Regions from separate parts of the Homo sapiens genome. Here region 2 is linked to region 1. A link means that fine-mapping ties the variant in region 1 to the expression of a gene that starts in the linked region. Tissue or cell type: whole blood. Region 1 holds a variant in brackets; the other region holds the start of a gene. All regions are shown on one strand. Distances are from middle to middle.

Evidence for each region. PIP is the estimated chance that this variant, and not a neighbour inherited with it, causes the effect.
Region 2: TNNT1 starts here. The variant in region 1 is fine-mapped to the expression of TNNT1 in whole blood (INTERVAL, PIP above 0.99).

The regions. Positions count from the first base shown.
Region 1 is chr19:55,115,999-55,124,258 of GRCh38, forward strand. PPP1R12C (protein phosphatase 1 regulatory subunit 12C) reads right to left here and starts at 1,639. Exons shown (of 22, transcript NM_017607.4): 1 at 1,225-1,639. The coding sequence starts at 1,545. It overlaps MIR7975 (microRNA 7975), which reads right to left and starts at 7,294; the gene lies at 7,227-7,294. RefSeq lists enhancers at 35-870, 225-274, 675-754, 1,715-1,994, 4,933-5,022 and silencers at 1,185-1,284, 1,305-1,384, 1,575-1,654. The variant T/TTG (reference allele first, on the strand shown) is at 3,393.
Region 2 is chr19:55,145,681-55,153,680 of GRCh38, forward strand. It overlaps TNNT1 (troponin T1, slow skeletal type), which reads right to left and starts at 3,526. Exons shown (of 14, transcript NM_003283.6): 1 at 3,481-3,526; 2 at 1,446-1,488; 3 at 1,328-1,341; 4 at 1,001-1,027; 5 at 754-786. The coding sequence starts at 1,477. It overlaps TNNI3 (troponin I3, cardiac type), which reads right to left. Exons shown (of 8, transcript NM_000363.5): 8 at 6,087-6,237. The coding sequence ends at 6,154.

The DNA of each region.
Region 1 (8,260 bases):
GAGGTAAGGGGGGTAGGGGAGCTGCCCAAATGAAAGGAGTGAGAGGTGACCCGAATCCACAGGAGAACGGGGTGTCCAGGCAAAGAAAGCAAGAGGATGGAGAGGTGGCTAAAGCCAGGGAGACGGGGTACTTTGGGGTTGTCCAGAAAAACGGTGATGATGCAGGCCTACAAGAAGGGGAGGCGGGACGCAAGGGAGACATCCGTCGGAGAAGGCCATCCTAAGAAACGAGAGATGGCACAGGCCCCAGAAGGAGAAGGAAAAGGGAACCCAGCGAGTGAAGACGGCATGGGGTTGGGTGAGGGAGGAGAGATGCCCGGAGAGGACCCAGACACGGGGAGGATCCGCTCAGAGGACATCACGTGGTGCAGCGCCGAGAAGGAAGTGCTCCGGAAAGAGCATCCTTGGGCAGCAACACAGCAGAGAGCAAGGGGAAGAGGGAGTGGAGGAAGACGGAACCTGAAGGAGGCGGCAGGGAAGGATCTGGGCCAGCCGTAGAGGTGACCCAGGCCACAAGCTGCAGACAGAAAGCGGCACAGGCCCAGGGGAGAGAATGCAGGTCAGAGAAAGCAGGACCTGCCTGGGAAGGGGAAACAGTGGGCCAGAGGCGGCGCAGAAGCCAGTAGAGCTCAAAGTGGTCCGGACTCAGGAGAGAGACGGCAGCGTTAGAGGGCAGAGTTCCGGCGGCACAGCAAGGGCACTCGGGGGCGAGAGGAGGGCAGCGCAAAGTGACAATGGCCAGGGCCAGGCAGATAGACCAGACTGAGCTATGGGAGCTGGCTCAGGTTCAGGAGAGGGCAGGGCAGGGAAGGAGACAAAGTCCAGGACCGGCTGGAGGGGCTCAACATCGGAAGAGGGGAAGTCGAGGGAGGGATGGTAAGGAGGACTGCATGGGTCAGCACAGGCTGCCAAAGCCAGGGCCAGTTAAAGCGACTCCAATGCGGAAGAGAGTAGGTCGAAGGGGAATGGTAAGGAGGCCTGGGGCAGAGTGGTCAGCACAGAGTGGCTAAGCCCAGGGCCAGTTGAAGCGGCTCCAATTCGGAAGTGGGGTGGTCGAAGGGGAATGGTAAGGGGGACTGGGACGGGGTGTCAGCATAGGGTGGCAAAGCCCAGGGCCAGGAACGACGGGGCGGATCGAGACTGGCAACGGGGAAGGAGGATGCCCCAGGTGGCGCAGCAGAGGGTGGACCTGGCCCCGGGAGACGCCGGGCGGGGGGCGCTGACCTGGTGCAGGGCGCTGATACCGTCGGCGTTGGTGGAGTCCAGCACGGCGCGGGCGGGCGGCGGCGCGGCGGGGTCGAGCTCGGCGCCGGGGCCAGGGTCGGCGGCGCGCAGCATCAGACGCGCCTCGTCCAGGTCGCCGCCCGCACAGGCCGCCAGGAACTCGGCGGCGCGCTCGAAGCGGACGGTGCGGGCGCGGCGCTCTCCGGGGCCAGGCTCGGCGCCCGCCCGCGCCCCCCACTGCCGCAGCTGCTCCCGTCGCCGCTCCCGGGCAGCCGCCGCCGCCGCCCCCGGGCCAGCCGCCGGGCCATCCTCTCCGGACATCGCACCGCCCGCCCGCCCAGCGAGCGAGCGAGCGCCGAGCCCCAACCGCCGCCACCACCCGCCCGCCCGCCCGCCCCGGGGGCCGCCGGGAACTGCCGCTGGCCCCCCACCGCCCCAAGGATCTCCCGGTCCCCGCCCGGCGTGCTGACGTCACGGCGCTGCCCCAGGGTGTGCTGGGCAGGTCGCGGGGAGCGCTGGGAAATGGAGTCCATTAGCAGAAGTGGCCCTTGGCCACTTCCAGGAGTCGCTGTGCCCCGATGCACACTGGGAAGTCCGCAGCTCCGAGGCGCCCAGTGGAAATCGCCAGATGAGGGCCTCCTCCGGGGAATGCTGGGAAATGGAGTCTACAGGCCGGAGGGGTGCCCCACGGCATACTAGGAAGTGTGTAGCACCGGGTAAAGGGGATGAATAGCAGACTGCCCCGGGGCAGTTAGGAATTCGACTGGACAGCCGCGTGGGAGGGAGTGCGGGGAGAGGCAGAGTTGTTTTGTTATTGTTGTTTTATTTTGTTTTCTTTGTTTTGAGACGGAGTCTCGCTCTGTCGCCACGCTGGAGTTCAGTGGCGCGATATCGGCTCGCTGCAACCTCCGCTTCCCAGGTTCAAGCAATTCTGGCTCAGTCCCCAGAGTAGCTGGGATAACAGGCGCGCGCCACCCCGCCCTGCTAATTTTTATATTTTTAGTAGAGACGGGATTTCACCATGTTGGCCATGATGGTCTTGATCTCTTGACCTCATGATCCGCCCGCCTCGGCCTGTAATCCTGCTGGGATGACGAGCGTAAGCCACCATGCCCAGCTGGGTTTTATTTATTTTGGTTTTTTTCCTGACCCCTTAACTAGAAATAAGCTCCACGAGAGCGGGATCTTTTGTCTTCTGTGCACTACTTGTCCTCGGTTCTTAGAACAGAACCTGAGAGAACCTGATCGCAAATATTTTTGGAATGAATGAATGAATGGGTTCACCAGGGCACCATGGGAAACTGAGTCCGCAACCTAGAAGCCATGAAAGACAGTCCACTTCCAAGCTTCCCTGGGTGACCTCGCAGGGCATGCTGGGAAATGAAATTTGCGGTGAAAAGGTCAGGACCACGATCCTAGGGCACGCTGGGAAATGTAGCCCACAGGGCCACACCCCTAAAAGCACAGTGGGGTGCAAGGCAGGGCCCCAAGGCATTTAGGGCTCGGGGCAAGAGAAATCCACACTCCACTCCCTAATGGTAATCCCTGAGCCACACCGAGTAAAGGAACCCAAGACACAGTGTCCACAGGGACAGGGCTCTCAGAGCTTTCACTGGCCCGCGCTTCTCCTGCGCCCACCCGGACCTCCTGGGAACCGCCCAGGCCCTCGCGCGCTCTCAAGGCATGCTGGGATTGGTGGTCCCGGGCAAGGAGTTCCAGCAGGTGGGGGGCGAATCACCTTTCAGCGGGCCCAAGCGATGAGCACACCTTGATCTTCACCTTACGGATCCCGCGCCCAACTCAAGATTGGGAAGGTGGCTGGCACTTTGTGACAGGAAGAGTCCCATAAAAATCATACAGAAAAGGGCCAAAATCGGGACAGAGACTACAGACTGTTTCCCAAGCGCTGTGGGAGTTTCCCACCCACTCTGAAGTCCTTGGGTTTGCGCGGAGACGTAAACTGCGCATCCCACGAGGCCTGTTTCTTTCCCTCTCTCTTTCTCTTTTGTTGTTGTTGTTGCTGCTGCTGTTACGAAAATTTTTGTGGTTTTATTGTATCATGAGGCATTGAAACATCCGGCGACTCAATGTCTAGGCGGTGAGGCAGCCGCTTTCTCCTTCACTTTCTTTGGGTTAAGTAGAGCAACTTGTCAGTAGTTTTGTTTTTT[T/TTG]TTGTTGTTGTTGTTGTTTTTGAGACGGAGGCTTGCTCTGTCGCCCAGGCTGGAGTGCAGTGGCGCGATGTCGGCTCACTGCAAGCTCTGCCTCCCGGGTTCAAGCGATTCTCCTGCCTCAGCCTCCTGAGTAGCTGGGACTACAGGCGTGCTCCACCACGCCCGGCTAATTTTTGTTTTTTAGTAGAGACGGGGTTTCACCATGTTGGCCAGGCTGGTCTCGAATTCCTGACCTCGTGATCCGACTGCCTCGGCCTCCCAAAATGCTGGGATTACAGGCGTGAGCCGCCGCGACCGGCCAGATTTTTTTTTTTTTTAAAGGACAACCTTTTGCATTACTTAAGTCTTTCCAAGGCATGCGCTGGTACAACACAAACTTTTCCCATTACATGCAGCTAGTCTAGTGTCCAGACGTCATGCACAACACCTCCGTGGCATCAGCGCACTGCGCCCACTCCCACTGCGACCCTGCTCATTTGTGCATCATATCTGGAGGAGTGGCAATAGTTCTGGAAAGAGGAGGGAAGAGGAGGCAGCGTGAGGGCCCGGTGGAGAGGAGGTCAGCTGAAGTTGTGCAGAGCAAGCCTGCATATCATTGGTGCAAACCCAAGCATCATTGCATCGCTGATGTTTTGTTTTGTTTGGTTTTGTTTTGTTTTTGAGACGGAGTCTCACTGTGTCGCCCAGGCTGGAGTGCAGTGATGTGATCTCGGCTCACTGCAACCTCCGCCTCCCAGGTTCAAGTGATTCTCCTACCTCAGCCTCCCAAGTAGCTGGGATTACAGGCGTGCTCCACGCCTGGCTAATTTTTGTATTTTTAGTAGAGACAAGGTTTCACCATGTTGGCCAGGCTGGTCTCGATCTCCTGACCTCAAGTGATCCACCCGCCTCAGCTTCCCAAAGTGCTGGGATTACAGGCATGAGCCACCACACCCAGCTGATGTTCTTTAGTAGGAATATCTGGTGGAACCCCAAGATGGGGTCTTCATCCGCCACGAAGCCTGTTTCTATAGAAAGGGATAGTTCTGGTGGCTCTTAGGTGTGGTCCCTGAACCCCACACTTTCCACATACTTACACACCAACCTCCTTCCCCCAGGAAAACAAGAAGTCGGTCTTCAGGGTGTTACCGTGTAGCTCTGGTTCTGTATGTATTCTGTGCCTTTATGTATAATTGTGTGTATTTGCAATCATGTCTGTGGCTGGATGTATGTTGTTTATGAGTTTGTGTTTATGGTTTGTTTTTGTTTGTTTGTTTGTTTGTTTTGAGATGGAGTTTCACTCTTGTCATCGCCCAGGCTGGATTGCACTGGCGCAATCAAAAAAGAGTAAAATAACAGAAATCAGAATGGGCTTATAATACTCTTACCCCTCTCCACACAGGACAGAAGAGTCAATTTTATACTTTTGTGGATGTTCTAACTTCACCTGCTTATCTGAACCATCTTTATGGTGCAGACTAATATCTATTTTTCTGCTGTTACAGAAGAAGTGGGAACATTTTCTTCTTATCTTTCTGAGGTTATTTACACCAGTGAGGAGGGCCTGCAGTTCCAAGGTTAAGCACCAACATTCCACTGTTACCATTGAGAGCAAAGAGCAGACCCTAGAAGTGAAAACAAAACCTTTACCACAGGAAGACAAGAGCAAAAGATGATGTTCTTGAGTGGCATATGAAGATGCTCACAGCCAACATCACATGCCTATCAGATATTTTATGTACATCATCTCATCAACTCCAGGAGGCAGAGACTAAGAGACTAGCCCCAGTCACAGAGCTAGAAATTGGCCAAGACAAGGTTCAATCTGAGGACTGTCAAATCCAGAACTGGAATTTCTTTTTTTTTTTTTTTTTTTTGAGATGGAGTCTCGCTCTGTCACCCAGGCTGGAGTGCAGCGGCATGATCTCAGCTCACTGCAACCTCCACCTCTTGGGTTCAAGCGATTCTCTTGGGACTACAGGTGCACGCCACCACGCCTGGCTAATTCTTGTATTTTTAGTAGAGACGGGGTTTCACCATGTTGGCCAGGATAGTCTCAAACTCCTGACCTCATGATCTGCCCGCCTTGGCCTCCCAAAGTGCTGGGATTACAGGCATGAGCCACTGCACCTGGCCTTAGAAGCCTCAGTTCCTGATGGCAGTTGGGATCTGCCTTTCCTTCCCTGGACTGCCTACCTCTTGTCTTTTAGGTTACATATGAGAAAACAAACCTCCAATTCACCAAAACTATTGTTATTTGGGGAGCTGTCTCTTACTATCAGCCAAACATAACTCCTCAATGACACTGTTAGTTTAGCACTGCCATTATAATCAGGAGGGATCTGGGTCCAGCTGCGGGAACATGAAGAGGCACTAGTGGGATGACCACAGCCAGCCCCTGTTGATTCACCAGGAGACTGCAGATGCATGAGCAAGTCCAGCCAAGATCAGCCAGACAAGAACTCCCAGCGGAGCCCAGCCCAATTTGCCAACTCTCAAACTATAATTTTTTTTTTTTTTTTTGAGACGGAGTCTCGCTCTGTCTCCCAGGCTGGAGTGCAGTGGCGCGATCTCCCCTCACTGCAAGTTCCACCTCCTGGGTTCACGCCATTCTCCTGCCTCAGCCTCCCGAGTAGCTGGGACTACAGACGCCTGCCACCACACCTGGCTAATTTTTTTGTATTTTTAGTAGAGATGGGGTTTCACTGTGTTAGCCAGGATGGTCTCAATCTCCTGACCTCATGATCCGCCCGCCTTGGCCTCCCAAAGTGCTGGGATTACAGGCATGAGCCACCGCGCCCAGCCCTCAAACCATAAGTTAAATAGATGACTGTTGACTCAAGCCACTAATATTTGGGGTAACTTTTTTCTTTTTTCTTTGCTTTTTTTTTTTGAGACCAAGTCCCACTCTGTCATCCAGGCTGGAATGCAGTGGCATGACCTCGGCTCACTGCAACCTCCACCTCTGAGGGTCAAGTGATTCTCCTGCCTCAGCCTCCTAAGTAACTGGAATTACAGGCACCAGCCACCATGCCTGGCTACTTTTTGTGTGTTTTCAGTAGAGATGGGGTTTCACTATGCTGACCAGGCTGGTCTTGAACTCCTGGCCTCAAGTGATCCACCCGCCTCAGCCTCCCAAAGTGCTGGGATTACAGGCAGGGGTGAGCCACTGCGCCCACCTGGGGTAACTTTTTATGCCACAAAAGCAAACTGATGCAAGGCATTCCAAGAGGCCTTTGAGCCTCTTGCAAGTCAAGCTGATTGCAAGACACTCTGCCTTTGATAAAATGTAGTGGACAGAGAAGCAGTGGTTTCAGTGGCAGAGATGACAAATTGTTGCCCAATATTCGTTGTCCCCTTCTTTCTCAACAAAATGGAACCTCTGATTATGCTGGGTTTAGCATAGCCATCTAGAATAATGGTTACATATCCCAGTGTCGGGCCTCCGAGCCCAAGCTAAGCCATCATATCCCCTGTGGGCCTGCACATATACATGAAGATGGCCTGAAGCAACTGAAGATCCAAAAAAGAAGCGAAAATAGTCTTACCTGATGACATTCTACCATTGTGATTTGTTCCCGCCCCACCCTAACTGATACGATATATTCTGCCTGGTCCTTAAGAAGGTACTTTGTAATATTCTCCCCCGCCTTTAAGAAGGTACTTTGTAATATTCTCCCTGCCCTTGAGAATGTACTTTGTACGCCCATCCCAAACCTATAAGAACTAATGATAATCCCACCTTTGCTGACTCTGTTTTCGGACTCAGCCCACCTGCACCCAGGTGAAATAAATAGCCTTTTTGCTCACACAAAGCCTGTTTGGTGGTCTCTTCACACGGACGTGCGTGACATTTGGTGCCGTGACTAGGATCAGGGGACCTCCCTTGGGAGATAAATCCCCTGTCCTCCTGCTCTTTGCACCGTGAGAAGGATCCACCTATGACCTCGGGTCCTCAGACCAACCAGTCCAAGGAATATTTCACCAATTTTAAATTGGGTAAGCAGTCTCTTTTTACTCTCTTCTACAACCTCTCTCACTATCCCTCAACCTCTTTCTCCTTTGAATCTTGGCGCCACCCTTCAGTCTCTCCCTTCTCTTAATTTCAGTTCCTTTCCTTTTCTGGTAGAGACAGAGGAGACGTGTTTTATACGTGAACCCAAAACCCCAGCGCTGGTCACGGACTCGGGAAGACAGTCTTCCCTTGGTGTTTAATCACTGCGGGGACGCCTGCTTGATTATTCACCCACGTTTCAGAGGTGTCTGATCACCACGGGGACGCTTGCCTTGATCCTTCACCCTTAGTGGCAAGCACCACTTTCCTGGGGGGCAAGCACCCCCCACCCCTTCTCTCCATGTCTCTACTCTCTCTTTTCTCTGGGCTTGCCTCCTTCACTATAGGCAACCTTCCACCGTCCGACCCTCCTTCTCCCTTAGCCTGTGTTCTCAAGAACTTAAAACCTCTTCAACTCACACCTGACCTAAAACCTAAACACCTTATTTTCTTCTGCAATGCTGCTTAACCCCAATACAAACTCGACAATGGTTCTAAATAGCCAGAAAACGGCAATTTTGATTTTTCCATCCTACAAGATCTAGATAATTCTTGTCGTAAAATGGGCCAAAGGTCTGAGGTACCTGATATCCAGGCATTCTTTTACACATTGGTCCCTCCCTAGTCTCTGTTCCTAATGCGACTTGTCCCAAATCCTCCTTCTTTCCCTCCTGCCTGTCCCCTCAGTCTCAACCCCAAGCGTCACTGAGTCTTTTCAATCTTCCTTTTCTACCGACCCATCTGACCTCTCCCCTCTTCCCCAGGCTGCTCCTCCTCAGGTCGCTCCCCACCAGGCTGAATCAGGCTCCAATTCTTCCTCAGCCTCCTCTCCCCC
Region 2 (8,000 bases), 30 kb after region 1:
AGGACTCTGGAGTCCAGTTCTGGAGGAGGGGGGATGGGGAGAAGAAAAGAGGGAAGGAAAGTCAGGGTGGCTGTAAAGGAGGAAGAGGGTCACACGCATCAGATATACATTCAGAACTGGTGTGGGGACCCCCCACCCCCACTGTCTGCACACCCAGGAGTGCAAACCCCCAGACCTTTCTCTATTTATATGCCCAGAGCTCCTGCTCTCCTCCATTAGGACCCAGCAGTGCAGGGGGTCCCAACCTCTGTCTTCATTCAGTGACCCCAGCGCTCTCTCCCCAGCTCGCCCCCTGCCCACCGCCCCACCGCCCCCCCGCCCCCGGCCCGACCTTGGAGACCCTGACTCCCAGCGCTCGCCTCCTCTGCAATCCTAAATTCCAAGCCCCAACCTTTGAATGTATATGGGGGAGAAAATAACAGACAAGGTTGGAGGCGAAGATAAGGGGGGATGGGGTGGTGCTTCTCCGCAAACATCCAACCCTTCTGTAAAGATTCCTCCAGACTGGGGAAGAAGGCTTGGGTGTCGGTCCCTTTAAGAAGGAAGGGAAAGGGTTAAAGCCACTGCGGGGCCATTTCCCTTCCCGGCCCCGAGAGGGCGCAGGAGCTCTCAGGGGCTTAAAGGACCGGGCCTGGGGGCGGGTTATGGGGGCGGAGGGAGGGAAGGGTGGTCTTGGAGGTTGGGGCCCGAGGATATCGGGGGTCCCCCCGGGCCCCCGACATCGGTCTCGGGAAGCGAAGCAGCCGCGGTTACCTGGCTCTGCCACCGGCTCCGGCTCTTCGGGGGCTGGGGAGGGGAGGGAGGAGCAGCGAGGGTTTGGGGAGCGAGGGGGGAGCGGCCACGCCCGGGCGCGGGAGGGGAGAGAGGGAAGAGACGTGAGAGGCTGTTAGAGGACCGGGAGCCGAGGCCGTCGGGAGCCCCATCCCGCCCCCTCCTCCCGGGCCCAGCGTCCCCGCCCCCCCACCCCCCAGCTCCAGACCTGCGGAGTCCGGGACCTCACCTTCCTCCTCCTCCTCCGCAGCCTCCTCTGGAGATGGGGGCACAGAAGAGAAGGCGTTAGGAGCTGGGGGAGGGATGGGGGCGGTGGCCAGAGACCAGGGTTCCAGTCTCTGCTGGACGGGGGTCCCTCTGGCCTCGGCTGCGATGGGCACGTTCCCCCTGGCGGTGCAGGGATGGCGCGAGGAGACGCTCCAGACCCGGAGAGGGCGGGCGAGGGCCCGAGGGCTGAGCCGCCCCTTCCCCGCCAAAGTGCCACACTCCTCGCCTCCCCTCCCAAGAGCTCCTGGGCGTGTCCCCATCCCATAGGGCCGGCCCACTCCCTACTCACCTTCCGGCTGCTCCCTGCGGACGGGTGTGGGGAGAGAGGAGGGAGGGGAGAGTTAGACCTGGGGTGGGAGAGCCTCTCCACCACTGCACGCCCCAACCCCTCCCAGTGCAGCACTCACTCCTCATATTCCTGCTCCTCGGTGTCCGACATCCTGGTGCGGCCTAAGGACCAGAGAGAAGAGGCCCAGTGGGGTGGGGCCCCAAGGAGGGGGCGACCTAGACTCCTGGGTGTGAGGGAGGAGGGGCTGGGGGCCTGGACTCCTGGGTCTGGACTCCTGGGTGTGAGAGAGGAGGAGCTGGGGTCTGGACTCCTGGGTGTGAGAGAGGAGGAGCTGGGGCCTGGACTCCTGGGTCTGAGGAAGGAGGGGCTGGGGGCCTGGACTCCTGGGTCTGAGGGAGGAGGGGCTGGGGTCTGGACTCCTGGGTCTGAGGGAGGAGGAGCTGGGGCCTGGACTCCTGGGTCTGAGGAAGGAGGGGCTGGGGCCTGGACTTCTGGGTCTGAGGGAGGAGGGACTGGGGTCCTGAACTCCTGGATCTGAGGGAGGAGGGGCTGGGGGCCGGATTCCTGGGTCTGAGGGAGGAGGGGCTGGGGGGTGTGTGGGAGGGTGGGTGTGGACTCCTGAGACTGAGATGGGTTGTCCTGGACACCTGGGTCTGAGGGAGGAGGGGCTGGGGTCTGGACTCCTGGATCTGAGGGAGGAGGGGCCAGGGGCCTGGACGCCTGGGTCTGAGGGAGGAGGGGCCGCGGGCCTGGACGCCTGGGTCTGAGGGAGGAGGGTCTGGGGGCCTGGCCTCCTGGGTCTGAGGGAGGAGGAGCTGGGGCCTGGACTCCTGGATCTAAGGGAGGAGAGGCTGGGAGTCTAGACTCCTGAGTCTGAGGGAGGAGCGGGCTGGGGGCCTGTACTCCTGCGTCTGAGGGAGGAGGGCTCAGGTCTGGACTCTTGGGTCTGAGGGAGGGGGCCGGCTGTCCTAAAGCATGCATGAGGACAGACCTTGGTAGGTGTGGTCCTGGCACAGCCAGGAGGCTGCAGACCCTGCCCCCTCAGCACAGCTGTCCTCTTTTGTCTTATGACAAGTCCATGGGAACCTGATCCAGTTGGGATTAGGAAGAGGCATTTGAGAAGGGACAGTGGCCTGAAGACAATAGCTGCCCCACCCCCAGGAGCTATTTTGGGGGGATGTCATAGATGGTGAAACCGAGGACATTTCCTAAGAAGGGATTTGAGGAAGGGGGGCTTCTGGGAGAATTAGTCACCCGCATCCCCTCTCCCACTCGCCCCACCCCACTGGCTGGTTTCCTCCCCACCTGTCTCCCCTTTCACCTTCCCATACATCACGTAGGGGGCAGGGGCATAAAGGGCACCTTCTGTCCGTAGACCTCACCCTGACCCCTACATTCTTAGACCTCAAAGTCTTTGAGACACCCTAGGCCACAGGGTGCCTAGCCCCAAATCCCAATACCCACAGATTCTGAGACCCCGATTTATGATGCCCGTGTTTCTGAGGCCAGCAAGTCCTCACAGCTCTGGATTCTGAAATCCCAGTTCTTGATAGTCCAGATATGGGCCGGGACATCCTAAGACCACCCCCAGGTCTTGAGACCTCCTAAAATCTGAAACCTCAAGAATATGAGACCCCCAAAATCTTGATACCCAAACTCGGAGGCCCAGTTCATGATACCCCAGATAATGGCACTCTAAGTTTTCATGCTTTCTATCATAATGTCTCAGATTCCGAGCCCTCCACTACCAAAACCCCAATTTCTTCTGAGACCCCCCCAATTCCTGATACCCTCAGAGTCTGAGGCCCCAAATCCTGACACCCAGATTGTTTGACCTCCAAGTCCAGATATCCCTGACTGCTGAGATTTCCCCCAGATTCCCAGAACCCCAAGATCCTAGGAGGTTTTATTCTGGGACATCCAAGTCCTGGCAGCCCCGGGTTAGGATTTGTGTAACCCACAAATCCTAGTATTTTCCCCTCTATCCTGAGTCCCCCTAAAGTCTGAGCCTCTCAAGTTCCCAGACCTCCAGTTGTATGCCCCACCTACCTCTGCACCATTTCTCCACACCCGACATCTTCCCCACCTGCCTCCTGCCCCCTCCCCCAAGGACATGGTTTTTGAAGACCACAGGGCTCCGCAGAGCCCCTTACCTAGGCTGTGTCTGAGATGCTGTGAATCTTGAGGCTGAGCCTTGCTGAGGGCACTGAAGCTCCGGGGAGTTTATAGCTGGAGGCTCGGGCCCGCCCCGAGGGGAGAGGGAGGGGGAGAGAATTCCTTTGCTCAAACACAAGCCTGGGAGTTCAGAGACAGCCCTGCTGCCCCTGGCTCCACACTCAGAGTCCAGAAGCCTCCGTGGGCCCCTCCCCAACCCCATGCCAACCCCATCTGCATGGCCCAGGAGCCCCGCCCCTGCTCCCACCCCACACCCCAGGCTCCCGTGGTGCTCCAACTACCTCCCTTATAGCTCCCTGTGCTTTGACGTCCCCATGCCCGGCACACAGTAGGTCCTTGGAGGACCTACTAATGACACATGGGCTATAAGGAATGTTTCCTGTTTTCTTCTCTCTGTTCCCTCTTTCTATCTAGGTCTCTTTCTGGACCCCCATTTCTGTTGTCTCTGTGGCTCTCCATCTGTGTGTCTCTGTGTGTCTGTCTCTACTTCTTAGTCTCCTCCTCTGTCTCTGTCCATCTTTTTGTCTCCTCCTCCCACCCCCACCCCTTTGTCTGCCGCCAGGATTCCATCCTGGTGACAACAGGCACTAAAGCCGGGAAGCAGGTGTGGGGAGGGGGAGGGGGAGGGTGGGGTGTCAATTAGGGTGAAACCTACCCTCCCTCCCCACCTCCATCTAACGCTGATCTTTTTTGGTATCCCCCTCCCGCTTCCCAGCCAAGCCATGACCTTGAGTTCTAGGTTCAAGCCAGCCCTGGAGAGCAGGCTTCCTCACCCTCCCCGCCTCTCCGTACCTCTGTCTCTGGTGGTCTCGGTCTTTGTGTTTCTGTGCATTTCTCGGGGCCCCTTGCTGGGTCTGTCTTGGGCTCTCTCTGCATCTGTCGCTTTCTGAGCCCCTCAGTGTGTTTCTCGGCATGTGTCTCCGGGTGGTTTTGTCTCTGCATTTCTGTGGGTGTCTCTGCATGTCTGCCCCTCTCAGCGTTTGTGTCTGTGGGGGCTCACAGTCTCTCTGTGCATTTCTGTCCACCTATGACCCCATTTCTGTCTCTTTTTGGCTCTGGGTCTCTGTGTCTGTGTTCACGTCTCTATCTTTCTAGTTCTCTCCATGTCTCTCTTAGTGCCCGCAGTTCCCCCTCTGTGGCTCTCCATTTCCATCTCTTATAGGGTCTCCATGTCTCTGCACCTTGCTGTGAGTATATCTCTGTCTCTCTTTTCTCCTTTCTTTGCACTTCCTTCTATGCATCTTGTGGTATTTTCTCCCTCTCTCTTTGGGTCTTTGCCTGGCTCCTACTCTCTCTACTCCCAACTCAGTCTCTCTGTTGTCGGTCATGTCTCTCTGCCTGTCTGTTTCTCTGTGTCTCTCTCTCTTTGACCTTTAGTCTTGGCATCTCTGTGCACTCCACATGGGCCAGAGGAGCTGTGACAATAGAGATCAGAAGACTGATGGAATGAACTGTTTGTGGCAATAAGATACCAAATTATAAACAAGACCTAAGGCCATGCCAGGCAAGGGTTAAGCCACGCATCCCTACACTTATATAATCGACTATGTTCCAACTGCCACAAGGCTTTTCCTTTTTCTAGCAGCTAAACAAGCACCGGCCTCAAGATAAGCAATATTACAACCATTGCAGCCATCCATTGCCAGATGCTGACTAGCTGAACCCCCTGTTCCACAAGGCATAACTACAGCATTAGTTGAACAAGAGACTGATTTCAGTAACTTTCTCCTGATAAGATGCCGCAGACCACGGACTGGTTCTGGCTGTTGACAGAGGCTGTGCACTGAGTGTCTTCATATCCCTGCTTCGTGTTTCGATACGAATGCATTCAATGGAATGCACTTAAATGTTAAGCCTCCACCACCAAGTGAAGGTGGGATGCATGTAAAATGTGTTTGCGGCCAGTCGCGGTGGCTCACGCCTGTAATCCCAGCACTTTGGGAGGCCAAGGAGGGCGGATCACGAGGTCAGGAAATCGAGACCAGCCTGGCCAACATGGTGAAACCCCGTCTCTACGAAAAACACAAAAATTAGCTGGGCGTGGTGGTGCATGCCTGTAATCCCAGCTACTGGAGAGGCTGAGGCAGGAGAATGGCTTGAACCCAGGACGCAGAGGTTGCAGTGAGCTGAGATCGTGCCACTGCACTCCAGCCTGGGTGACAGAGCAAGACTCCGTCTCAAAAAAAAAAAAAAATGAGTGTTTGCTTGTCACACATGCGTGTGTCCATGTGTCCACCTGTCCATGAATATTCATAGCTCCTTCTATAACCAGTTGAATACGTGCACTTAGCTAACCCACTCAGCATAAATTCCTGCCTTGCCCTTCCCTCCCTTAAAGTGCCTGCTTTTGTTTTTTGGCAAGAAGCCATGCTTCTGGTCTTCAGGTTGTGATCCGCTTCTTAAGAAACAAAGCTCCGCTCTCCAAATTCATGAACCCCGGGATTCTTTTCAATAACACAGCCAAGAGTGCTTCACATGGGAGACCCATCTGGTCCCCAACCTGCTGTGTGGCTTTGGGGGAGCCCCACCTGCAGTCTTCCCATCTGTCTCCTGCCTAAGCCCTGGGTAATAGACATGGAGTCACTTTCAGCTCAGAGAGAAGCTTTATTCCTCAGGGCCCTCCTCAGGGCAGGGGCAGTAGGCAGGAAGGCTCAGCTCTCAAACTTTTTCTTGCGGCCCTCCATTCCACTCAGTGCATCGATGTTCTTGCGCCAGTCTCCCACCTCCCGGTTTTCCTGGAGGATGGCGATGAGTCAGAGGTTAGGGTCTCTTCTTGGTCTCCAGTCTCTCAAGAATCCCTGTCTTCCCTCCAGCCTGTGGGGCCACTCTACCCTGGATGCCTAAGTATCTAGTTCTGGAGCACTTCCTGTCTTTTCAAGATAATCCCTGCCAATTTTCCCCATGCACTTCCTGTCTCCCTCATGCACTTCCTGTCCCCCTCATGCACTTCCTGTCTTTCCCCAGCACTTCCTGTCTCCCTCATGTACTTTCTGTCTTTCCCCATCCACTTCCTGTCTCCCTCATGCACTTCCTGTCTTTCCCCTCCACTTCCTGTCTCCTTCCTGCACTTCCTATCTTTCCCCTCCACTTCCTGTCTGCCTTATGCCCTTCCTGTCTCCTTCCTTCTCTTCTTATTATAGTAGTCCCTCCTTTTCTGCAATTTTACTTTGTGTGGTTTCAGTTACCTGAGGTAAACCATGGCCCAAAAATATTAAATGGAAAATTCCAGAAATAAACAATTCATAAGTTTGATGGATTCTCAGGTCAATAGTAGCCTAACGCCAGGTCATAATGCCTATGTCATCCACCTCACCTCATCTCAGCACATAGGCACTGTCATTTTACATCACAAGGAAAAGAAGGGTGATTACAGTGCTATAAGATATTTTGAGAAAGAGACCACATTCATGAGTTTTATTACAATCTGTTATAATTGTTCTATTTTATTATTATTATTATTTGAGACAGGGTCTGGCTGCCTCATCCAAGCTGGAGTGCAGTCGTGCAATCTCGGCTCACTGCAGCCTCAACTTCCTGGGCTCAAGCCATCCTCTCACCTCAGACTCCTGAGGAGCTGGGACCACAGGTGTGTGCCACCATGCCCAGCTAACTTTTGTTCTGTTTTGTTTTGTTTTGAGATGGAGTCTCCCAGTGTTGCCTGGGCTGGAGTGCAGTGGTGAGATCTCGGCTCACTGCAACCTCTGCCTCCCGGGTTCAAGCAATTCTCCTGCCTCAGCTTCACAAGTAGCTGGGATTACAGGCACCCACGACCACGCCCAGCAAATGTTTGTATTTTTACTACAGGTGGGGTTTCACTGTGTTGGCCAGGCTGGTCTCAAACTCCTGACCTCATGATCCGCCCGCCTTGGCCTCCCAAAGCGCTGGGATTACAGGCACGAGCCACCACACCCGGTAACTTTGGTATTTTTTATAGAGACATGGTCTCGCCATGTTGCCCAGGCTGGTCTCGAACTCCAGAGCTCAAGCAATCTGCCTGCCTTAGCATCCCAAAGTGTTGAGATTACAGGCATGAGCCACCACGCCCAACCTTCTTTTGTTGTTATTTATTGTTAATCTCTTACTGTGTCTAATTTAGAAATGAAACTTTATCATAGGTATGTATGTGTGTATAGGAAAAAAAATTACATATAGGGTTCAGTACAATCCATGGTTTCAGGCATCCACTCCTATCTTTCCTGTCTTCTTCTTTAAGATAGGGTCTCACTGTATTGCCCAGGCTGGAGTGCAGTGGTGCAGTCATAGCTCACTGCACCCTCGATCTCATGGGCTCAAGCGATTTTCCTGCCTCAGCCTCCTGAGAAGCTGCATGCCACCACCGTGACTGGCTAATTTAAAAAAGAAATTTGTAGAAATTAAAACAACAACATGGTGGTGTGCACCTGTAGTCCCAGCTACTCGGGAGGCTGAGGCATGAGAATCACTTGATCCTGGGAGGCAGAGGTTGCAGTGAGCCGAGATGGTGTCACTGCACTCCAGC